Regions from separate parts of the Homo sapiens genome. Here all the other regions are linked to region 2. The links come from fine-mapping of genetic effects on gene expression. A gene starts in region 2. Each other region holds a variant in brackets. All regions are shown on one strand. Distances are from middle to middle. Region 1 holds the start of AURKC (aurora kinase C). Region 2 holds the start of ZNF264 (zinc finger protein 264). Region 3 overlaps LOC124904784 (a long non-coding RNA gene).

Region 1 (8,169 bases), 37 kb before region 2:
AAGAAAGAGTAAGGTAAGGTAGGGAGGGGAGGAGGAGGTGAAGAAGAGGCAGAGAGAAAGGAAGGGGAGGAGAGAGTAGGGGAGGGAGAGGTGAAAGAAAGAATTGGAGGGAAGGGAGGGAGTGGGGAGAAAAGAAGAGCGTTGGGGAGGAGGAGAGGGAGGGGAGATGTCAACACATGTGTCTTCTGTGCACCCGACCCCTGGCCCAGTCCCCAGCCTTCCCTGCGTCCTTTCTCTGGCGCTGGCTCTCACACTCTTCGCCTGCAGGTTGAGCTTTGCCCAGCTGCACCACAGCTCTGGGGGAGCTCATGGGGAGAAGAGGTGAGGGCGCGGACGCCTTCCTGAACCCTCTGGATGGCTGTTCCCGTTCACAGGGTCCTGAAAGGGGTGGGGGGTCACTTTCTGGCCGGGGCGCTTCCAATCCTGCTCGTCCTGCAGCCTCACTGATGTCTCACTGCTACACAGGCTTCGGGATCCGCGGCGTCGTGAGCAGCCGTGGCTGCGCGGCCTTCTTTTATACCCGGCACCAACCGCTCAGAGAGGTACTTCCTGGCTGGCTCCTATTGGCTGAAATTCCTGACGCCATCGGAAGTGCGCCCAATAGAAAGGACAGAAACGGGAGCCTCAGTCCAGGGTTCCCGGGTTGGGGCGGAACTGGAGTGCTGCGGTCCGGGCTGGGCACTGAAAGCGAGGGCCAGGGGTGAGGCCCGAGAAGGAAGGAGACAGAGGGTGCGGAGAGGTGGTGATGGCCGTTGTGGGAATGAACAACGCATACACCCACGGGGTGTGCATGCGTCAACTAGGAGAGAGCCGCGATGCACGTGGGAATGAACAGACGCCCACTCCTGACGTGCTGGAGCCTCGTGCAGCCCGTGACCCTAAACCACTTCGCGCCTTGTGCAGCCGGCGACCCCAAAACCACCTTGCTTCAAGGTCACGTCCGATTCAGGCCACTCTCCAGGGTCACCGCGATGGGGCTCCCTGAAGCCTGCGGCTGTGCCTGCTCACAGCCAGGACGCCACCAGTCCAGCTCACTTACCCCTCTCCTCCCACTCGCCAAATATTTGTTGGACCCTGTAATCAGTTTGTGGATTTGGCCTCAGATCGTAAAATCAGCCCCCACGTATTTGTTTAGCAAACACATAAGTTTCAAAAACATTAAAAATTGAATTCTTTTAGACAGGGAACATATCTTGCAGAAATATAATTGAAGGCCTGGCGTGATGGCTCATGCCTGTAATCCCAGCACTTTGGGAGGCCGAGGCGGGCGGATCACCTGAGGTAGGCAGTTCGAGACCAGCCTGGCCAACAGGGCGAAACCCCGTTTCTACTACAAAAATTAGCCGGGTGTGGTGGCGCATGCCTGTAATCCCACCTACTCAAAAGGCTGAGGCAAGAGAATCGCTTGAACCCTGGAGGCGGAGGTTGCAGTGAGCCAAGATCATGCCACTGCACTCCAGCCTGGGCGACAGAAGGAGAACGAGACTCTGTCTCAAAAAAAACAAAAACAAAAACAAAAAAACCCAAAAACAAAAAAGCTCGTCTCAAAATATTTGGGGAGACCTATTTGAGTAATAAAACTCTGGTCTCTCATTTAGCTCGATTGATGTGAATTAAACCCTTTATTGCAATTATCCTGTCTTGATAAGTCGACTCTATCTGGGGAGCAGGGAAAATAATGAACCCATTAGGTGGTTACAATAGGTGGATCAGGGTAATGGCGCTTAGCTCAGGCCAACCATTCCTTTCTCAGAGGCTTTCCCAAACCTGTCTGTTTGTTTGTTTATTGAGACGGAGTCTTGCTCTGTCACCCAGGCTGGAGTGCAGTGGCTCGAACTCAGCTCATGCAACCTCCGCCTCCTAGGTTCAAACATTTCTCCTGCCTCAGCCTCCTGAGTAGCTGGGATTACAGGCACCTGCCACCATGCCCGGCTAATTTTTGTATTTTTAGTAGAGACAGGGTTTCACCATGTTGGCCAGGCTGGTCTCGAACTCCTGACCTCAGGTGATCCACTCGCCTCGGCTTCCCAAAATACTGGGATCACAGGTGTGAGCCACTGCGCCCAGCTCCAAACTGTCAATTTAAAACAGCCCCCACTACAACGTCATCCTGTTCTGTTTTTCCTTAGGTCACTCATAACCATGTGAAAGTGCTGTTTTATATATGTGTATATTGTTAATTTAATGAGTATCGATTGAGTGCCTATCTTGCAACAGGCACTGCTCTAAAAAATCAGATATGTACATAGCAAAATAATTATGCATTCCTGTACTTGAGGAATTTTTTTTTTTTTTTGAGATGCAGTTTCACTCTGTCGCCCAGGCTGGAGTGCAGTGGTGCGATCTCGGCTCACTGCAACCTCTGCCTCCCAGGTTCAACCAATTCTCCTGCCTCAGACTCCCAAGTAGCTGGGACTACAGGTGCACACCACCACGCCCGGCTAATTTTGGTATTTTTAGTAGAGACAGGGTTTCACCATTTTGGCCAGGCTGGTGTCGAACTCCTGACCACAGATGATCTACCCACCTCAGTCTCCCAAATTGCTGGGATTACAGGCGTGAGCCACTGTCCCTGGCCCTCGGGGACCTTTTAATTCCAACAATCAGTAACTCAAAAAGAACAACCACAACCACAAAAGTAAACAATATAGAAGGTTAGAGGGAGGTAGAGTAGTTGGGAAATGTCTAAAAGACAGTTATATCTGAGCATGGACTTGGAGGAATGGAGCATCTGAGGTAACAGGGTCTCATAGAGAGAGCACCTAAGACAAGGGAATGAAAGCAGGAGGATCCTGTCGTGTTTGGGGAAGTGCAACAAGGTTAGTATGGCTGCAGCTGAAGATAAACTGAATCACAGAGATAGATGGACGTGAATTCTGTAGTGTCCTGGAGGCCACAGTAAGGAGGTCATATTTTTATTTTTAGTTTTGAGACAAAGTCTCACTCTTCCACCCAGGCTGGAGTGCAGTGACACCATCATGGCCCACTACAGCCTCGAACTCCCAGGCTTAAGCAATTCTTCCACCTAAGCCTGCCAAGTAGCTGGGACCACAGGTGCATGCCACCACATCCAGCCAATTTTTAAAAATTTATTCTTTTTAAAGATGGGGTCTCACTATATTTCCCAGGCTGGTCTTGAACTCCTGGGCTCAAGCAGTCCTGCCTCAGCCTCCCAAAGTGCTGGGATTACAGGCGCGAGCCACTGCGCCTGGCCCAAGGATGTTGTAATAGGCTCCCTGTGTATTCTAGAATATACCTGGGATTGTATTTAGTCAGGCAGGGTGTGACAATCAGATACAGAAGTGATTATTATGGAGGAAGTTTATAGTAAGAGATCCCTAGAAACAGGAGGCAGAGCACACCATGCGGGTGGAAGCACCAGAGCAGGTTAGAAAGCAGCAGCAGAGGAGAAAGCAAGGCCCAGAGCCTGCGCTGTGTTTTCCACCAGAAAGGCAAGGCAAGGCAGGGCAGGGGCAGCATAAACAGAATAGGATTTGCTACTGTGAATAATGTTGGCAGGTTTTAGGACACAGGCACTGTCCGCAGCTATCTGATATCTGACCCTAGAATGAATTAGGGCCAACTTCAGGAAAACAACCTCTTGGGGTATCTTGCCTGGTAAGATTTTTATGTCGAAAACCATAAGTAGGTCCTGCTGCACGTTTGACCAGATAATTTA[T/C]GCTAACAATATGATTCATGGTGGATGCTGGCTTTTGCATGCATGAGGCCCTGGGCCATGCTATATGTTTGTTTTCTGCAAGGGTTGTAGACTGGATATTTATGGTTATTCATGTGGGTTCTGCATTCCTACCTCAATGACCCTTAACGAAAACTCTAGACGTCAAGGCTTGGGGGAGCTTCCCTGGCTGGCAATACTGTGAATGTGTTGCACACAACTTTGCTGGGAGAATTCAGTGTGCCCTTGTGCAACTGCACTGGGAGGGAACACCTGCTAAGTTTGTGCCTGTGCTGGACACAGTGGCTTCCACCCGTAATCCCAGCACTTTGGGAGGCCAAGGCGGGTGGATCACTTGAAGTCAGGAGTTCCAGACTGGCCTGGCCAACATGGTGTAACCCCATCTCTGCTAAAAACACAAAAATCAGCCAGTGTGGTGGCACATGCCTGTAATCCCAGCTACTTGGGAGGCTGAGGCAGAGGATCACCTGAACCTGGGAGGCAGAGGTTGCAGTGAGCCGAGATTGTGCCATTGCACTCCAGCCTGGGTGACACAGCGAGACTCCATCTCAAAAAAAAAAAAAAAAAAAAAGAAAAAGAAAAAAGAAAAAAAATTGTGCCTGGTTTCTCACAGATTTCCTCCTATGTGCCTTTTACCTTTGGTGATCTTGGTCTCTATCCTTTTGTGGTAATAAACTGTAACCATGAGTACAACAGCTTTTCTGAGTTGTGTGTGACTTTCTTTTCTGAATTTTGACTTTCAGGCAAATCATCGAGCCTGAGGTGGTACTGGGGAGAGAATGTCACATAACCTAAAATGTCAAAAATGATTAAGGCTCATTCACCTAACAAATATCTGAATACATACTATTGACTACAAACTATGCACATGGAACATTAGGAGAAAATCTAGATCAAGGTCTGTGCTTTTTCGAAGCTGGAAATTGAGTTCAGGATACGGTCATTATTCAATAACCAAACAAATCAATAGATAATCATGAAAGAATGGGTATGAGCTAGCTGGGTGCTCTAGTGGGCTTCTGTGAAGGTGTGCTCTCTGGGACAAAATGAAGGATACACATTTGCTAACTGGGCAAAGCAGGTGGTGGAAGCTCCATCTCGAGTGGGAAAAGGAAAGGGAAGCATGGAGTGAAAGGAGAGCAGTAAGACTTGTATGAGATGAGGGTTGGGGAAATACGTTTTAGGGTATGTTCACTAAAGTAGGTAGCTGAACCCAAGAGTGCAGATGAGGCCTGGGGAGAGACCAGTAAGAGAAAAAAGAGGCCTGGGACAAAGCCTTAGAAATTTCAACACCGGTCAGGCACGGTGGCTCATGCCTGTAAGCCCAGCCCTTTAGGAGGCCAAGGCAGGCGGATCACCTGAGGTCAGGAGTTAAAGACCAGCCTGGCCAACATGGTGAAACCCCGTCTCTACAAAAATACAAAAATTAGCCGGGCATAATGGCAGATGCCTGTAATGCCAGCTACTCAGGGGGCAGAGGCGGGAGAATCACTTGAACCTGGGAGGCGGAGGATGCAGTGAGCCGAGATCATGCCATTGCACTTCAGCCCGGAGACAGAGCAAGACTCTGTCTCAAAGAGAAAAAAAAAAGAAAAAAAATTCAACACCAAATGGCTGGATACACGTGGATGCACCAACATGAAAGGGGAAAAGGAGTGAGAGGGTGCAGGGGAGAAAACCAGAAGCATAACCTTACAGAATCCAAGAGTACATCTGGAGAAAGGACTGGACAACAACAGTTTCAAGTCCTGTCCATAGCCCAGAAAAGACAAGGACTTAGGATTCATAAACAGGGAGCCACTGCTGACCTTCACCAGAGTGGTAAAAAGCGTGGTGCTGTAGCCGGGGAGTTTACAAGGAGAGGGGAGTTGCGGGACGTGGAGAGAAATAACACAAGGAAGAGGTAATGGGAGCGTGACATGAGCCCCAAGAGGCTCCTCCATTAGAGGAAGAGAGTGAGGAAAAGACAAAGAACTCAAAGCTGGAGAAGCCCATACAGACATAGGGACATATGGAAGATCAGACTGGTGATGTCTGATACTCAAGAAGTGTGAGGATAATTCAGAAAGGGTTTGAAAATGACAAAAGAACATGCAGATGAAGACCAGGCACGGTGGCTCATGCCTGTAACCCCAGCACTTTGGGGGCCAGGGGAGGAGGACTGCTTGAGCCCAGGAGTTTGAAACCAGCCTGGGCAACACAGGGAGACCCCCATCTCTACAAAAAATTTAAAAATTAGCTGGGCATAGTGATGTGCACCTGTAGTCTCAGATACTTGGGAGGCTGAGCCTGCAGTGAGCCATGATCAGAAGACCCTATTTTTTTTTTGTTTTTTGTTTTTTGAGATGGAGTTTCACTCTTGTTGCCCAGGCTGGAGTGCAATGGCGCAATCTTGGTTCACCGCAGCCTCTACCTCCCGGGTTCAAGCATTTCTCCTGCCTCAGCCTCCCGAGTAGCTGGGATTACAGGCATGCACCACCACACTCAGCTAATTTTTTGTATTTTTAGTAGAGACGGGGTTTCTCCATGTTGGCAAGGCTGGTCTCAAACTCCTAATCTCAAGTGATCCACCTGCCTCGACCTCCCAAAGTGCTGGGATTACAGGTGTGAGCCACCGCGCCCAGCCTAAGATCCTATGTCAAACACACACACACACACACACACACACACAGCAAAAGAACATGCAGATGGAAAATAGGCTTGTAGGTGGCTGAAATGACATGTATGCCAAAAGTCAAGAAACTGAGATGAAAAAAGATTACTGTCACTGCTGAAGCCTAATTTCAAAGATCAAGAGACACACTTTGAACATATGTGAGTTCTTATACCTGAGAGCCAGGACATGGAACTAGGAAGAACAAGAGTACAGAGATGTTGAAAGACCACACAGCTACAAATGGCTAAAGGCTTAAGAAAGGAGGGAGGATGCCCATGAAAGGGAGGATAATCAAGAAAACACCATGTGGTCGGGCCGGGAGATGGCATTCTTCCTTCAAACTTGCAAACATTAAGAAGTGGCCCGGGGAGAATGATATCGGAAGGTGTTGTGTATTTGGGGCCCTCAATTAGTTGTGCTTGAGCTTTCTTGAGTGTCGGGCTATGAGAAGGGCATCAGGAGCTACCTTCCTAAAAACCCCAACCCCTCAGATGGTTGAGATTTTGCTAACACAATGGTCCCTCAAACGCCTGGGTCCTACCAATGCATCTGGAGAGCCCCTCTTTGGCATTGACCCCCTCCTCCTTCCATGGCTGTCCACTGAGTTCCAACCTAAGTATCACATTTGGCTTGGTGCACTGACACAGTTCTTTGGAAATGACATGGAAATGGCTGATTTGCTTTGCTAAATTCTTGAAATTCATGAGTGCTTTCAGGTAGGTTTTTTAAAATGTAGATTTTATTATTTAGCGTTGACGATGCCAACAGATCAGAAGACTGCCACTGATGAGTGTGTAACTCATAGTTCCCATGAAGAGGGGGTATATGAAGCCACACAGGGCTAAACAGGGAAGACTCACGGTTGGTTAGGAGACAGGAGGAAGGGGAAAGTGTGGGTAAAGCCTGTGTTATCATTTCTTCATTTTATTTTTAAAGAGCCAGGGTCTTGCTCTGTTGTCCAGGCTGAGGTGCAGTGGCTCAGTCACAGCTTACTGCAGCCTCAAACTCCCAGGCTCAAGTAACACTCCTATCTTAGCCTCCAAGTAGCTGCAACTAGAGGTGTGCACTATTGTGCCCCGTGAATTTTTTTTTTTTTTTTTTTTTTGTAGAGATGGGGTCTGGCTATGTTGCTCAAGCTGGTCTCAAACTCCTGGCCTCAAGTGAGCCTCCTGCCTTGGGCGCCCAGTGTTGGATTACAGGTGTGAGCTACCACACCCGGGCTGTATTGCCATTTTCGAGTGAAGAAATGGGTAAGGCAGAATAAACAAGTTATGAATTGGCTTAGCAATTCATAACTTAGCAAAAGCGGAGGAGACTTTTGCTACCTCTAAGAGGAGCAGTGTCTCCAGGATCAGCAAGGTCTCATTTGTCAAAATATCAGAATAAAAACACATGCTGAGCCAGGCAAAGTAGCTCATGCCTGTAATCCCAGCACTTTGGGAGGCTGAGGCAGGAGGACCACTTGATCTCAGGAGTTCGACACCAGACTGGGTTTCGAACACAGATATCTCATCTCTAGATTTAAAAAAAAAAAAAAAGAATCAGCTGGGCATGGTGGCAAGCACCTGTAATCCCAGCTACTCAGGAAGTTGAGGCGGGAGGATCACCTGAGCCCGAGAGATTGAGGCTGCAGTGAGCTATGAATGTGCCACTGCACTCCAGCCTGGGTGACAAAATTTCATTAAAGTCACCTGGCCAGTCAACACAAGGCCCATGGCTCGTAACCCTTACTCAAGAGGGTATTTCTCCTCCGCTATCTTGCCTGTCACATGCAAACCAGCCATTCCACAGCCCTACCCCTCAACTGTCTTTGGCA
Region 2 (8,164 bases):
ATTGAAGGATGCAACGTATTGATCCTGGGTGTGTCTGTAAAGGTGCTGCCAAAAGAGATCAACATTTGAGTCAGTGGGCTGGGAAAGGCAGACCCCCCCCTTAATCTGGGTGGGCACCATCTAATCAGCTGCCAGCGAGGCCAGCATATAAAGTAGGCAGAAATACATGAAAAGACTAGACTGGCCTAGACTACCAGCCTACATCTTTCTCCCATGCTGGATGCTTCCTGCCCTCGAACATTGGACACCAAGTTCTTCAGCTTTGGGACTTGGACTGGCTTCCTTGCTCCTCAGCTTGCAGACAGCCTACTGTGGGACCTTGTAATCATGAGTTATTACTACTTAATAAACTGTCCTTTTTATATATATCTATTCTATTAGTTCTGTCCCTTTAGAGAACCCTAATCCAGGTGGCCACTCTTGTCTTGAACTCACTAAGGCAGAAAAAGCCATAGAGAATAGACGTGACATGAGCAGACCCAGACAGAGAAGCCAGGACACCATCGTGGTGGTTCTCAGTTCCTACACCAGCCCCTCATGAGGCACAGCTGAAAATTACCTTTGAGTTTGCAAAACACCCCATTTCCTTTTACCACCTTCTCCTTTGGCTGGGAGCCAAAGAGTACCCTGTCTTTAGCCCAGAGATATAGGAGACCAGATAGGAAGAGGTTACTGTGGAAAATGACTAAAGCTGTGGGAAAGAGGCAAGGTAGATTCTAGAGGCCTTCTTGTGCAGCCAGGCCTGGAGTCAGAAGATGGAATGAAGGAAGTGGCAGGTCACCTGCATGGTGGAGGGGGAAGGAAGGCCTTACCCAGAGACACCAGGAGCCCACAGTTTTCCAGCATCACCTCCTGGTACAGGGTCCGCTGAGCTAGGTCCAGCTGCCCCCACTCCTCCTTGGTGAAAGTCACAGCCACATCATCAAAGGTCACAGACACCTGGAAAGTCAAACAGAATTAGTAGTATTGGCCTTTCAGCTGCTGAATGAGATCACAGACTGTGCTCCACTGGAAAAGGTGTACAGTGATGGCGGCCTGAATCACAGAGCACCTCCTGAGGGCCTAGCTCTGTGCTGGGCTCAAGAGGGAAGATAGATGCTTTTAACATAATACCAGAGTAAAGGAGAGAAGCCTCCTATTTAACGGCCGTTAGAGAATGACACAGGACAACGGAAACAACTTGTGGACTGTGAAATACAGAAGCTAAGGGCTCTAAAACGACAGGGAAATGGGGAAATGGTAATAATAGCAATAATGGTTACAACGGCAGTACCTGAGTCTCACTGGTCCAGCTAGGTGCCTGCCCCATGTTGAAGGCTTCACATCCTGTGTAAACACAGTGACTAGAAGTTCCTAGCTCCAAACACTTGAAACTGACACTTGACAGCTCTTACCTCAAAGACAGCATTTCATTTCTCTGAGCCTTGATTTCTGGATCAATACAATAACACTTCCCACCAGTAACAGTTGTTAAATTTAAAGTATTCAATGCTCAGTGTGCTCTGGGATTTTTATTAATCCTTTCACAGTCCCTGCAGTCAACACCATCATCACCTTCACAGTCAATGACTTCATGCTAAGGAAGCGCTATCAATTCACCCAGTCACACATCTCACCACCATAGATAGGATCTAAACATGGGGTTACTATGATTCACGGTCTAACAGTGTAACTCCAACACTCCCCCAACATCAAAGCAAATCTAATGCGATGAAGTTATAAGCATTTCCACTCATTTCTAACATTAAGTCTATTTCAATTAGCCCTGAAAAACGTATCTGTGGGCCGGGCATGGTGGCTCATGCATGTAATCCCAGCACTTTGGGAGGTCGAGGTGGGCGGATCGCTTGAGGCCAGGAGTTGAAGACCAGCCTGGCAAATATGGTGAAACCCAGTCTCTACTAAAATACAAAAATCAGTCAGGTGTGGTAGTGCATGCCTGTAATCCCAACTACTCGGCAGGCTGGGGCAGGAGAATTGCTTGAACCTGGGAGGCAGAGACTGCAGTGAGCTGAGAGTGCACCACTGTACTCCAGCCTGGGCGACAGAGTGAGACCCTGTCTCAAAACAAAAAAAAGTATGTGAACACGGGCACAAAAAGCTCAGCATTCCTCACTGACCCCACAGAGCGGCACTGGAAGGGCTGCATCTACTTGGGGAACGACAGGCTCCAGACCAGCTTCCCATGCCCTCTGGGATCTCCCTGGGTCTCCCAGATCCCCCAAGGAAATTCCACAATGAACCAACCATCGGCCTCTTTCCTTACTGGGTTCCGACAGAACTTGTCTCTGACGCCAGGATACTTTGGGGCCACGGAACACGAGCGGCCAAGGATAATGCAGGCTGTAGCGATGAGAGTAAGGGCATCTGACTGGCCACAATGTCTGCAGTAGTTGCGGATGGCTAGAACATCCAGGAAAAGACCACACACTGTTGCCCTCCACGTCTCAGCGGCCGCAGGAAAACCATGGCAACCTTACACACCCTCCTGAGCCTCCTTAAACATACAACATACCTTGTCTCTGCTCGCGCATTTGTCGGCTTGCTACTGCCCTGCCCTCCCCTTCCCCCCTCAGGCCCCCAATTCATGCTGGAATGAGACCTGGTCCACCAGAGAATGCTTGCAGGCCAAGGATGATGGGAGTCCCCAGAGGAAGCATCATTCACTCAACAACCTACGGAGCTCCTTCCAGTAGGCCCAACACTCCTTACGGCCAGGTATAAATTAAGTGGCAAACCAGCTCCACACACCAAAGCGAACGACGACTGCGAAGACAAATCCAGGGGATACCTGGGCTCCCACCCACTTCGGAAACCGCCTCAGCGCTGGCAAGGAAGCGGCAACCGCGAAGCCACCGTCCACTCACCTGGGCCCGGTCCGTCAGCACCGCTGCCGCCATCACGTCACCCCCTGGGCCGCAGAGCTGGGACAGAGGAGCCCCGGGCGGCCTGACGGACCCCACCTGTGCCCGACCCTGGCCGGTTGCCCGGGGCTTCCAGGCGCGCTCGGGGCCGCCGCCTCCTCGGTGGCAACGGCGTTCCAGACGCAGGGCCGCCGCCTCCTCGGTGGCAACCGCGTTCCAGACCCAGGGCGCCGCCCCTGGAGACCGCGGGGCTGAAGGGCGGGGGAGGAGAGACCGCAGCTTGACGGCGACCCAGGAACAAACCCACGGAAGGGGTCAGGCTCGTACAAAGGTGCGGCGGGGATTCCTATCCTACTCCCCTGCTCGGTCCTGACTAGGGACCTGCAAAGCGGCCCCGACCGGGGCCCTCAGTGGCTACAGACCTCTCCAGACAGAAGTGCAGAAGAAAATGGCGTCCGCAGCGAGCAACCCGGAAGTCCCGCCCCCACCGGCGTGAGCCGTCGGAAACGTCCCCGTCCTAGGCCGTCGTTGGCCCAGCTCCCGCCGTACGCATAATGCACAGCCTTCTAAGTAGTGTAGTTTTCCTCATGTGTTCAACAACGGGAGGAACGCTTCACGGCGCAAGTTTTCCTCCCAGGGAAAGGCACTCCAGGACCCGAGGAGACGCTCCAGACCCACCTCTTTACGGTGGGCACAACTCGAGGGGAAGGATGGAGGGAGGGAACCGAGGGGCAAGGGTTACATTGCATTCTTCTCTCGGGAAAATCGGAGCTCGGGAGACAGGGACTTTCCTTCAGGTCAGGGCACAGGCAAAGGCGCAGAACTGGGTCCTCAGCTCGCCTGGCGACTGACCCCCTTTCACATCCCTCCTCCCCGGATCATCATCTTGGAAGACACAAAAAAGCCGAATGATCATCTGGAAGCCCTGCCCCGACACGTTGTGTGCGCAAACTGCCCTCTTTTGAGCCTTCTTTGGACCAGCACAGCCTCTACGTGATGCAGGGAGTCATGTATTTGGCCCAGACCACACAAAAAGTGGATTTGCCCACTTCTGAGGTGGGGAGGCTGCAAGTGGAGGAGGTTCGGAGGCTCAGGATGGTTAGTTTGAAATGTCTACAGAACCACAAAGTATCTCTGTCACAGGCAATTCGACTTACGACTGAATGTTGGAAGAAGGTTTGAGCATGAATATATGAATTTAGGAGTTACCTTACACTGTTATTTCAAGTCATGATATTGAGTGAGACCATCAAGGCAATGCATGTAGATGGAGAAGAAAATACACAGAGCATGAGCCGGGGACCAAGTCTACATCATTAAATGGTTGATGACAATATTACCAGAAAGGCCAGGTCCTTGCATCTAGATCCTGCTGCTTGCTGCACAGAAGGCCAGTCAGCAAGACAATGAGTATTGTCAGGGATGAAGGCTTTATTCGGTGCTGCAGCTGAGGAAAATGGGAGATCAATCTCAAATCTCTTTCCTCAACTGACTAAAACTAGGGGTTTATACATCAGGGAAGAAGTGTAACTATGTTTGAGAAAACAGGAATTAGGAAGGGGTAAGGAAGAGGAATGGGTCAACAGGCAGCAGATGGTCAGTTAGGCAATCATCATGGGTAAGGGGTATAGCATCTCGTTTTTCCAGATGTGGTAATCCAGTAAGTTTCAGTTTCTTTATACTATCTGGGAGGCCTGATGCTTGGTTTCCTGAGAAAGGAAATCAGATAAGACAAATAAAAGTGTCTCGAGTTTTAGGAAGGGGAGGCTCAATGTCTATAATGTGTTGATTCAAAAGAAACCATAAATATCAGTTCTATGGGACACTGGAGCTGGTTTCAGTTCCCTGTTTCTATTTATCAATTCCTCAATCATGGGGAATCTGGACGTGATCTTTCTGGCTGCTTTATGCTGAGGAGGGGTATTGTGGGTGGCTGCATACCATAGATGACCACGTGGCCACTCAGATTAACTCAAAGGTTAATCTAACGCTATAGTTTTCTTTCTTTCTTTCTTTTTTTTTTTTGAGACAGAGTTTTGTTCTTTCACCTAGGCTGGAGTGCAGTGGCACGATCTCCGCTCACTGCAACCTCTGCCTCCTAGGTTCAAGCGATCCTCCTGCCTCAGCTTCCCGAGTAGCTGGGATTACAGGTGCCCACCACCATGCCTGGCTAATTTTTGTATTTTTAGTAGAGACGGGGTTTCACCATGTTGGCCAGGCTGGTCTCAAACTCCTGACCTCATGATCCGCCCACCTCAGCCTCCCAAAGTTGAGCCACTGCACCTGGCAGCACTATAGTTTTCTTTGGAAACAGTTTTTCTCTCTCTAGTCCCTGACTTCCATCAAAAGCAAATCACAGCAGGAACAACTTACCTGCAAAACAAGCTTCAGTCCCACCATACTTATCCAAACTACAGCAAGAATCACTGTTTATACAATTCCTCCTAAATTGGCTTTGCTGGAACCCCTCATAAGGAATCTCTCAGACTCAACACCCAAAGACCTCTTAAGCCCAGCCAAAGATCTGTCTGCACCTGTACATACCTGCATGAATTGGGTGAAACCCGTTTTTCTTGAGGCCCCAGAACATCTTGAGGTTCCTAGGCCTATCAGAAAATGACACTGTATTTACTACAGGCCAGGAACCCCACAAAGGAACTGTGTGCACAAGATATGAGGCCAGTCCTTCCAAGGGCTCCCATCAGCTCCATAAAGTCAGTCTTTTTTTTTTTTTTTTTTTTTTTTTTTGAGACACAGTCTTGCTCTGCCGCCCAGGCTGGAGTGCAGTGGCGTGATGTCAGCTCACTGCAAGCTCTGCCTTCTGGGTTCGCGCCATTCTCCTGCCTCAGCCTCCTGAGTAGCTGGGACTACAGGCGCCTGCCACCACACCCGGCTAATTTTTTATATTTTTAGTAGAGATGGGGTTTCACCATGTTAGCCAGGATGGTCTCGATCTCCTGACCTCGTGATCCACCCGCCTTGGCCTCCCAAAGTGCTGGGATTACAGTCATGATCCACCACGCCTGGCCCATAAAGTCAGTCTTAATTCCTCAAAGCAGTCTCGCATAGTTAAAAATATGCCATTCCTGTCAAAGCCTTGGGAAAAGACCCAGTGCCTACAATTGTGTTATAAAATAATATGGATTTTAAAAAATAGAGATAGGGTCTTGCTTGTTTACCCAGACTGGAGTGTAGTGGCACGATCATAGCTCACTACAGCCTCAAACTCCTGGGCTCAAGCGATCCTCCTGCCTCAGCCTCCCAAGTAGCTAGAAAACAGATTCTTATTGAACATATGCTACACCTAGCTAGAAAACAGATTCTTATTGAACATATGCAAACAACCACATTGCCGTGAATTAAGAATATTCACAAATAGTTTCTGAATTCTGGAGAAATCAGGCAGAGAGAGAAATAGCCCTCAAATTTTGTTTACAAATGTATATTCAATTGTTAAAGGCTATAAATAGCTGGAAAGAAAAAAGTTTCATAGAGACAGAAAGTAGATTTACAAAAAAAGTTCTCCTGACTCAAAAACAAAACAAAAAGAATCAGCAATGTTTCAAACACACACAAAAAATAATAAAATAAATTCAGTACTTGAAATAAATCTCTGTGTTTGTGTGTGTGTGTTCCATTTCTCCCTAATTCCATTTCTCAACTGCATGAATCCTTAACTCATGAAAGATACTTTTTACCCTCTTGGCTCCACAGTTAATGGAGAAAAAAAAATCATCAACAGTGACTTCTAAGATGGCTTAATATACTATATAATAAAATATTTTTATTTATCATGAAATAAATTAGTACAGTCCATGAAACTCCTGCTCTGCTTCATATTGCATAAACATATGTATACATAATTATGTATTTTATGAATATATCAGCCTTCTAATTAGAGTCCTGGAAGTTTTCTCTCTAGGCTGATAGGACAATCTCCAAAGTTACCAGAAACTTGAATTCAAGTGTTCTTTTTATGAACTCTCTCAAAGAAGCCCTGAACTGTAGCTGACTGTAAGCCACCTTTGGAGAAGACTCAAAGTCAAACAATAATTGTGGATGACAAAAGTCTTAGGACAACCATAGTTAAAAAACAATGGACAAGGAAATTTGGTTATTTCTGTGACAAACGATTATGACAAATGTACTTTTCTCAAGTTTTAAGAGTGGGAGGGTCAATTTCTAGGTTCAGTCAAAAGAAACCACAAACATCAGTTCTATGGGACAACTGGGTTGGTTTTCACAAGAAACTGACAAGCTCACATTAGGAGTTCTAACTGTCCTCCCAGAAAGGTATATTAAGCAATCTTAGAAGTCACTATTGATGATTTTTATTTTCCATTAACTGTAGAGTCAAGAGGATAAAAAGTATCTTTCATGAGTTAAGGATTCATGCAGCTGAGAAATGGTATTAGGGAGAAATGGAATACACACGCGCGCACACGCGCACACACACACACATATTTTACTGCAAGAAATGGGGGTGGTGTGCGGTGGCTCATGCCTGTAATCCCAGCACTTTGGGAGGCTGAGGAAGGAGGATTGCTTGAGTGTAGGAGATCGGTCAGAGTGGTGGGAGAAGCTATAAGAAAAGGACGCAAACCTTCTGAAAGGTCAGAAGTCTCTGCATAGCTTCACGGGAGAATAAGCTGAAAGCAGCTGTTCTCTTACCCTAAGGCAGAGGGCAAGGAGTAGGTACAAGGAAGTGTAGGGGAATTTAACATAAACAGGCTTGTTTACTTATGTTAACTAGGAACCAACATTTGATCATTCACGAGTGAGGCTGCCCCCAAAAGGGGGAACAATAATGTTAATTACCCACAGACTGTGTTGGCTCCAGGCTTTTGGCATTATGTCTGTACTGAATAAAAGCAAGCAGTCCCAGCTTATCAAGACTGCTCACTCTTCAGCAGTCCCCTAGCTGCTCTTACACTACATACCTGTGTCTGAGTACTCCTTTCATCCATCGCTCAGCCAGGGTCTACAGGACAGACCCGGCTCTTGAGGCCGGGAGTTAAGAGACTAGCCTGTGCAGCATAGTGAGACCATTCCTCCACAATAATTTTTTTTTTTGAGACAGAGTCTCGGCACTGTCACCCGGGCTGGTGTGTAGTGTTGCAATCTTGGCTCACTGCAACCTCCATCTCCTGGGTTCAAGCAATTCTCCTGCCTCAGCCTCCTGAGTAGGTAGGATTACAGGTGCCCGCCACTGTGCCTGGCTAATTTTTTATATCTTTTAGTAGAGATGGGGTTTCACTGTGTTGGCCAGGCTGGTCTTGAACTCCTGACCTCATAATCCG
Region 3 (8,179 bases), 980 kb before region 2:
CTCCCGGGTTCTAGCGGTTCTCCTGCGTCATTCTCCCTAATAGCTGAGATTACAGGCAGATGCCACGACGCCCAGCTAATTTTTATATTTTTAGTAGAGACAGGGTTTCACCATGTTGGTCAGGCTAGTTTCGAACTTCTGACCTCAGGTGATCTGCCCATTTTGGCCTCCCAAAGTGCTGGGATTACAGGAGTGAGCCACTGCCCCTGGCCCCATATGCTTTTTTAAATCAATGGTCTACTGTTGGTTTAAATTAAACAACATATGGCCGGGCGCAGTGGCTCACGCCTGTAATCCCAGCACTTTGGGAGGCCAAGGTGGGCAGATCATGAGGTCAGGAGATCGAGACCATCCTGGCTAACATGGTGAAACCCCGTCTCTACTAAAAATACAAAAATTAGCCGAGCATGGTGGCGGGCGCCTGTAGTCCCCGCTACTCGGGAGGCTGAGACAGGAGAATGGCATGATCCCAGGAGGTGGAGCTTTCAGTGAGCCGAGTTTGTGCCACTGCCTTCCAGCCTGGGTGACACAGCGAGACTCCATCTCAAAATAAATAAATGAATAAATAAATAATAAATAAACAACATATGACTAAGAATAAAATATGTAAAGCTATAAGTTGGCCCAAACCATTATGGCAGCTGGACCATTATGGCAGCTAGTGGTGTTCAACTGAGTCCTAAGCCAGCTGTGCAACTGAATCATGGACCCAGGATTTGATCTCCACTCATCATTCTCTGTCTCTGTTTCATCACACAGAGCATCTCAAATTGTTCCATGTAAAGGGGGATACATTTTAAAATCATTTTTAAAAAGAAGAAAGATGTGTCTTTCCATCTTTGAAATGTGAGCTTTGAGGACACCTCTCTGAACTTCTGAGAGCTTGGGAATGTAAGGTTACAGAAGTATGGATAAATTAATGTGCATTTGAACTATAAATTATTAATATCATAGCTTTTTTCCCAGAAAAGAGGCTCTTTGGTTACTGCTGCTCATTCATTCTTTGCCTGTTTTCCCCAACATCAAAGGTAAACTCACCATCAAGATAATCCACACTGGACATAACACATGGGGGAAAGGCTAAGAATTTGGGCTCTGAGCAGAGGCCGATCACAAACAACCTCCAGAAAACGGCCTGCCTCAAAGAGGAATGCAGGAAGTCCACAGAATGCCGGACAAACCAGTGAGGCAGGTTTGGAATAATCTAGTACATGCCTTTGCACCCTGTATCCGTTAAGGCATGTTTGGTTGGAAATAAATAAAAACCCAAATAACCAACGCCGTTTTCCCACAAAGAAAATCTGCAAGTATAGGTCTTTTCTGGTGCTGGTTAAGCTGCCCACTGAAGTCACGGAGGATGAGGCTCACTCTTTCCCTCTTGCTGTCCTTAGTGTGGGGCATCTTTTCTTTAGGCCATTAGGATGTAGACAAGGAACAAGCCAGCCACACACCTCCTGCTAGTCCTGAACACAACCCATCTCAATATTTCCTGCCTTAGGAAATCGACCTTTTCTTCTCTGATGAGAACTGACTCCTGTCTCTCTTCTTGAGTCTTTTTCTTGTTTATTCCTCCATTCAATAACCGTGGAGGATACACACATCGAAAATGACAGAAATCTGCTCTCAGCAATGCTGAACATTTTCCAGATATTCTTGTTACTACAAATAAAGTATGAGGCCAGGCTCATACCTATAATCCCAGCACTTTGGGAGGCCAAGGCGGGAGGGTCACTTGAGCTCAGGAGTTCAAGACCAGCCTGAGCAACGTAGCAAAACCTCATCTGTATTAAAGCAAAAAATGTAGCTGGATGTGGTGACACACTCCTGTAGTCTTAGCTACACAAGAGGCTGAAGTAGGAGGATCATGAGCTAAGGAAGTTGAAGCTGCAGTGAGCCCTGATTATGCCACTGCACTCCAGCCTGGGCGACAGAGCTTGACCTTGTCTTAATAAATCAATCAATCTGATATGAAATAGACCTGAGTGCTGTAATGATTGGGAAAGGAAACCTAAAAATGCATTTATTAACATTAACATACTTTAAAAACCCAATTGAAAACTTTAAAAATCAAGATTACAATAAGCTAGGCAGAATACAAAAGATGGACAAATCAACACCACAAAGCAATGCACAAAATCTATACCTGCAACAAGTATATTGAAATGGAGGTTCCTGTCACAATAGAATCATAAAAACAAAATGTCTGAAATTAGTTTGTTGGGAAATGTGAAGATAAGTTTTGGAAGAATTACAAGTAAACTTACATAAATGAAAATGCTTATCAAGTTCAAGGATAGATGGCCAATGAGTAAAGTGTCAGTTACCCAAATTCATCACTAGATACAATGAAAGAGCACATAGGATTATAACAGAGCCTTTTGGGAGGCTTGACCCTTGAACTTTCTTTTGTGCTTCCTCCTCCTCCAGTGTGAGAAAGAACTGATTGCTATTCTTCACATAACCAATTGGCTTCAAACTCATCTTAAGGAGAAACGCCTGCAGAAATGACTAGTTCAGGCATGTTCTTTGCTTTTGCCAATAAATTTGGACTTCAGAGCCATCAATAGCATACAGTTCTTATCACGGAGTTATTTAGGGGCCATGGCGAGGAAATCATTTTGTGGTTCAGCAAGTTGGCACAGTTTATTTTGAATGGAAGTGTGTGATTAATTCTGGGCACCTATTTTCACCCAGAGAGGACCCATGCCACACTCTATGAACAGAGAAAGAGAGACAGCATCCACATCTGCATGGATCACTTGAGTCCACCACATCCCAGAGTGTGCTTCCATGTCACACTCTTGGACTTGTGGAATATCTCCTTTCCATCGTTGCAGCCCCTTGGCTGTGCCTCTGAGGCTACCAGGCCCTTCCTTCTGACTGCAGTGGCCTCTGCTCTGCATGAGATGTCTGCCTTGCAGGAAGTGTCTCTGAGTCAGGGCAGCAGGGGCCATCCTGAGCCAGCAGAACTGGTTACCTGTGATGGCTGCTCCTAGGAGTCCCCAAACTGTGGCTTAGCATGACCAAACGAGACTTGAGAGCAAAAGCTGGTGGGGAGCAAGAAAGGGTTATCATGTAAGGTGTAGTTTTGGCAGAAGTGACAGTATGCCACCATTCATGATCTTAAATTTCACTGACTGGGCACAGTGGCTCACATCTGTAATCCCAGCACTTTGGGAGGCTGAGGTGGGTGGACTGCTTGAGGTCAGGAGTTCAAGACCAGCCTGGCTGATATGGTAAAAACCTTTCTCTACTAAAAATACAAAAATTAGCCAGGTGTGATGATGCATGCCTGTAATCCCAGCTTCTTGGGAGGCTGAGGCATAAGAATTAATTGAACCCAGGAGGCAGAGGTTGTAGTGAGCTGAGATTACACCACTGCACTCCAGCCTGGGTGAGAAAGCAAGACTGACTCAAAAAAAATGTTTGTTTGTTTGTTTTTCATTAAGTCCAGGCTGGGCACAGTGGCTCATGCCTGTAATCCCAACACTGTGAGACCAAGGTGGGAGGACTGCTTGAGCCCAGGAGTTCAAAACCAGCCTGGGGAACATACTTGCCCAGTTTTTTGTGTGAGATTCCATCCCTACGAAAACAAAACACTAGTTGCGTGTGGTGGTGTACACCTGTAATCCAGGTACTCGGGAGGCTGAGGTGGGAGGTTCGCCTGAGCCTGGGAAGTTGAGGCTGTAGTCGCACCACTACACTCCAGAGACTCTGTCTCAGCACAAATAAAACTAAAAATTACAAAATAAAAAATGTAATTAAATCCAGATGTAAGGGCTTCTACGGTTGACCCCTGGGCTCAAGTATGAGCTGTAACCAGTCACTGTCCCTCCTTTGGCTCAGCCCTCCCCAGTGTATGGCCTTGGTTCTTTCTGAGGCACACGTCTTTGCAGTCCTAAGATGGTGATTACAGTTCCAAGTCTAGCATTTAGCCGTGCAACATTTGGCTGAAGAAG[T/C]TGGCATCAGGAAGTGTATTTGCTTTCTATTGCCACTGTAGCAAATTACCAAAACTTTGTGTCTTAAAACAACAACAAATTTATTGTCTCACAGCTCTGGAGGTCAGAAGTCCAAAATGGGTCTTACTAGGCTAAAATAAAGATGTCAGCAGGACTGTGGTCCTTCTGGGGGGTCTAGGAGAGAATCCATTTCTTTGCCTTTTCCAGTTTCTAGAGACTACCTGCCTTCCTTGGCTTATGGCCCCTTCCTCCAATTTTAAAGCCAGCAGTGTAGCATTTTCAAATCTCTCATTCCATCATCACATCATCTACTCTGATTCCTGCCTCAAGTTATACAAAGACATTTGATTAAATAGGGCCCGCCCCAAGTAATTCAGAATAATCTCCCCATCTCAAGAATCTGGCCAGGCATGGTGGCTCATACCTGTAATCCCAACACTTCGGGAGGCTGAGGCAGGAAGATTGCTTGAGCCAAGGAGTTTGAGACTGGTCTGGGCAACAGAGCAAGACCGTGTCTTAACAACAACAAAAATAGCTGGGTGTGGTGGCATGCATCTGTGGTCCCAGCTACTCAGGAAGCTGAGGCAGGAGGATCGCTTGAGCCCAGGAGTTCCAGGCTACAGTGAGCCATGATCACACCACTGCACTCCAGCCTGGGTGACAGAGTGAGACCCTGTCTCTAAAACAAAAACAGATCCTTAATGGCATCTTCAATGTCCCCTTTGCCATGCGAAGGTAACATATGTATAGGTTCCAGGGTTTGGAATGAGGACATCTCTGAAGGAAAGGGGGCATTACTCTCCCTACCACAAAGAAGTAATACAACATTTTGGCCGGACGCAGTGGCTCACGCCTGTAATCCCAGCACTTTGGGAGGCTGAGGCGGGCAGATCACGAGGTCAGGCATTCGAGAACAGCCTGGTCAACACGGTGAAACCCCTTCTCTACTAAAAATACAAAAAATTAGCCGGGTGTGGTGGTGCGCGCCTGTAGTCCGAGCTACACAGGAGGCTGAGGCAGAAGAATCGCTTGAACCTGGGAGATGGAGGTTGCAGTGAGCCGAGATCGCGACACTGCACTCCAGCCTGGGCAACAGAGTGAGACTTTGTCTCAAAAAAAAAAAAAAAAAAAAAGTAATACAACATTTTCGGAAGACTTCTCTGTTGTTGACTCGCTCTGACCCTGTTAGCCAGGATTGACACATGCATCCATGTCCTGGCTGGGAGAAAAGCTGGAAAAGAGTGTAACTGGTTTTTTTGGCATCTGTAGAAGGCGCCAGACTGTGCTGCAATGAAGGTGGGTGGCACAGCCACAGTAGCTGGCACAAAAGTCTGCTTGGGTGGAGCCCATCTACCCCAGAGACCTCTCCTCACATTAAGTTATAAGGCCACAAACCAGATCCGGATGGAAGTTTCCGGACTTGCTGCCAGCAAAGATCTGGAACTGAGGGTCAACAGCTCATGCCTGCAATCCCAGCACTTTAGGAGGCTGAGGCAGGAGGATCACTTGAGGCCAGGAGTTAAAGACCAGCCTGGGCAACATAGTGAGACTCCATCTCTACCAAAAAAATTTAAAAATTAGCTGGGCATGGTGACATGTGCCTGTAATCCCAACTACTCAGGAGTCTTAGGTGCGAGGATTTCTCGAGCCCGGGAGATTAAGGCTGCAGTGAGTTATGATCAGGCCACTGCACTCCAGCCTGGGCAACAGAGTGAGACCCTGTCTCCTAAAAAAAAAAAAAAATGGAACTGAGTGAAGTCCCAACATCCAGGGAGCAGCTACCAGGACATGGGGACCCTGGTGGAGGATTGAATGGGGTGCTGGAAGGGAAAGATGGCATTTCGCTCAGGTAAGGGAGAAGTGTGAGCTCTCCCTTGGGTATAGGAGGGAAGCCAGAATTTCAAAACGTGACAGAGAGAGAGAGACAGAGAGACAGATTGTGAAATTGAGAGAAAAGTCTTTTTCACGTGAGGCTGCGCGGTGGCTCACGTCTGTAATCCCAGCACTTTTGGAGGCTGAGGTGGGCAAATCACCTGAGGTCGGGAGTTTCAGACCAGCCTGACCAACGTGGAGAAACCCCATCTCTACTAAAAATACAAAATTAGCCAGGCGTGGTGGCACATGACTGTAATCCCAGCTACTGGAGAGGCTGAGCAGGAGAATCACTTGAACCCGGGAGGCAGAGGTTGTGGTGAGCTGAGATCGCGCCATTGCACTCTAGCCTGGGCAATGCCCATCAAAAAAGAGTGAAACGCCATCTCAAAAAAAAAGAAAAAAAAAGATTCATTTGTGAGACCTTTCCACTCATCCCTTTCCTCAGATACACCCCAGAACACCCTCAGAACACCCCAGATACCCTTTTGGGCAGCTATGGGTGAAGCTGCCCCTCAATCTCAGCTCCAGTGGATGGCCCACTGGCCTCATTCTGTCTCCGTTGCTGCAGTGATTAATCCAGGGGCATGCAAGCACTCTGGTCCAAGCCAGTCAGTGCAAGGCACCCTCCTGTCCATGACAAGTGTCAAAGCAATGAACATGGACGGAGAGTGAAGCCCAGGACTTTGATTAAAAGTTAGGAGAGTGTGTTTGGCTGAAAAATGTCCCCCAAAGATGTCAGGCCTGAATTCTTGGAACCTATGAATGTTGCGTTATGTAGAGACAGGGGCTGCATATGTATTTAAAGATCTTGAGAGGGGAGATGATCCTGGATTGTGCATGTAATCACATGTATCTTTACAAGAGGGAGGCAGGGACAGATGTGACCACACATAGGCAGAAAAGGAGAAGGTGATGTGACCGTGGAGGCAGAGACTGGAGCTGTGCAGTCACAAGTCAAAACATGCCAGCAGGCCGGGCGCAGTGGCTCATGCTTGTAATCCCAGCACTTTGGGAGGCCGAGGCAGGCAGATCACCTGAAGCCAGGAGTTTGAGACCAGCCTGGCCAACATGATGAAACCCCGTCTCTACTAAAAATACAAAAGTTGGCTGGGCACAGTGGCTCATGCCTGTAATCCCAGCACTTTGGGAGGCTGAGGCGGGTGGATCACAAGGTCAGAAGTTCAAGACTAGCCTGGCCAAGATAGTGAAAACCCGTCTCTACTAAAAATACAAAAGTTAGCCAGGCATGGTGGCAGGCGCCTGTAATCCCAGCTACTCAGGAGGCTGAGGCAGGGAATTGCTTGAACCTGGGAGGCGGAGGTTGCAGTGAGCCAAAATCACACCACTGCACTCCAGCCTGGGTGACAGAGTAAGACTCCCTCTCAAAAAAATAAAAAAATAAAATAAAAATAGGCCGGGCGGGGTACCTCACGCTTGTAATCCCAACACTTTGGGAGGCCAAGGGGGGGTGGATCACGAGGTCAGGAGTTTGAGACCAGCCTGGCCAATATGATGAAACCCTGTCTCTACTAAAAATTTAAAAATTAACTGGACGTGGTGTTGCACGCCTGTAACCCCAGTTACTGGGGAGGCTGAGGCAGGAGACTGGCTTGAACTCAGGAGGCAGAGGTTGTAGTGAGCTGAGACGTGCTACTGCACTCCAGCCTGGGTGATAGAGCAAGACTCTGTCTCAAAAAATAAAAAAATAATAAAATTAAATTAAAAATAAAAATACAAAAATTACCTGGATGTGGTGACATGCGCATGTCATGCCAGCTAGTCGGGAGGCTAAGGCAGGAGAATCGCTTGAACCCGGGAGGGGGAGATTACAGTGAGCCAAGATCACACCACTGCACTCCAGCCTGGGCAACAGAGTAAGGCTCCGTCTCAAAAAAAAAAAAAAAAAAGCCAGCAGCCACCATAAGCTGGAAGAGGCAAGGAATGAATTCTCTCCTGGAGCCTCCAAGGCTTGAATTTGGCCCAGGTATGGATTTCATGCTTCCGGCCTCCAGAAATGAGAGAATCTATTTGTCTTACTTTAATATTTCTCTTATCTCTTGTTTTAAGACACTGAGTTTGTAGTAATTTGTTACAGTGGTGATAGGAAACTAATACAGAAAAAAAAAGCCCAGTCTCTTGAAAGAAGTTGAGCCATATTGGCCGGGCGTGGTGGCTCACACCTGTAATCCCAGCACTTTGGGAGGCTGAGGCGGGTGGATCACCTAAGGTCAGAAGTTCAAGACCAGCCTAGTCAACATGGTGAAACCCCCGTCTCTACTAAATATACAAAAATTAGCCGGGCGTGGTGGTGGGCGCCTGTAATCCCAGCTACTCGGGAGGCTGAG

Evidence for each region. PIP is the estimated chance that this variant, and not a neighbour inherited with it, causes the effect.
Region 1: its variant is fine-mapped to the expression of ZNF264 in whole blood (TOPMed, PIP above 0.99).
Region 3: its variant is fine-mapped to the expression of ZNF264 in whole blood (INTERVAL, PIP 0.98).

Annotation. Positions count from the first base shown.
Region 1 is chr19:57,223,390-57,231,558 of GRCh38, reverse strand. It overlaps AURKC (aurora kinase C), which reads right to left and starts at 536. Exons shown (of 7, transcript NM_001015878.2): 1 at 253-536. The coding sequence starts at 310. The variant T/C (reference allele first, on the strand shown) is at 3,680.
Region 2 is chr19:57,186,650-57,194,813 of GRCh38, reverse strand. It overlaps ZNF264 (zinc finger protein 264), which reads right to left and starts at 3,314. Exons shown (of 4, transcript NM_003417.5): 1 at 2,868-3,314; 2 at 813-939. The coding sequence starts at 2,900. RefSeq lists a silencer at 2,799-3,068 and enhancers at 3,239-3,298, 3,309-3,398, 3,419-3,478.
Region 3 is chr19:58,171,405-58,179,583 of GRCh38, reverse strand. It overlaps LOC124904784 (a long non-coding RNA gene), which reads right to left. Exons shown (of 2, transcript XR_007067360.1): 2 at 1,995-3,047. Among named protein-coding and RNA genes, the nearest start is that of ZNF274, 7.6 kb to the left of the region's middle. The variant T/C (reference allele first, on the strand shown) is at 3,960.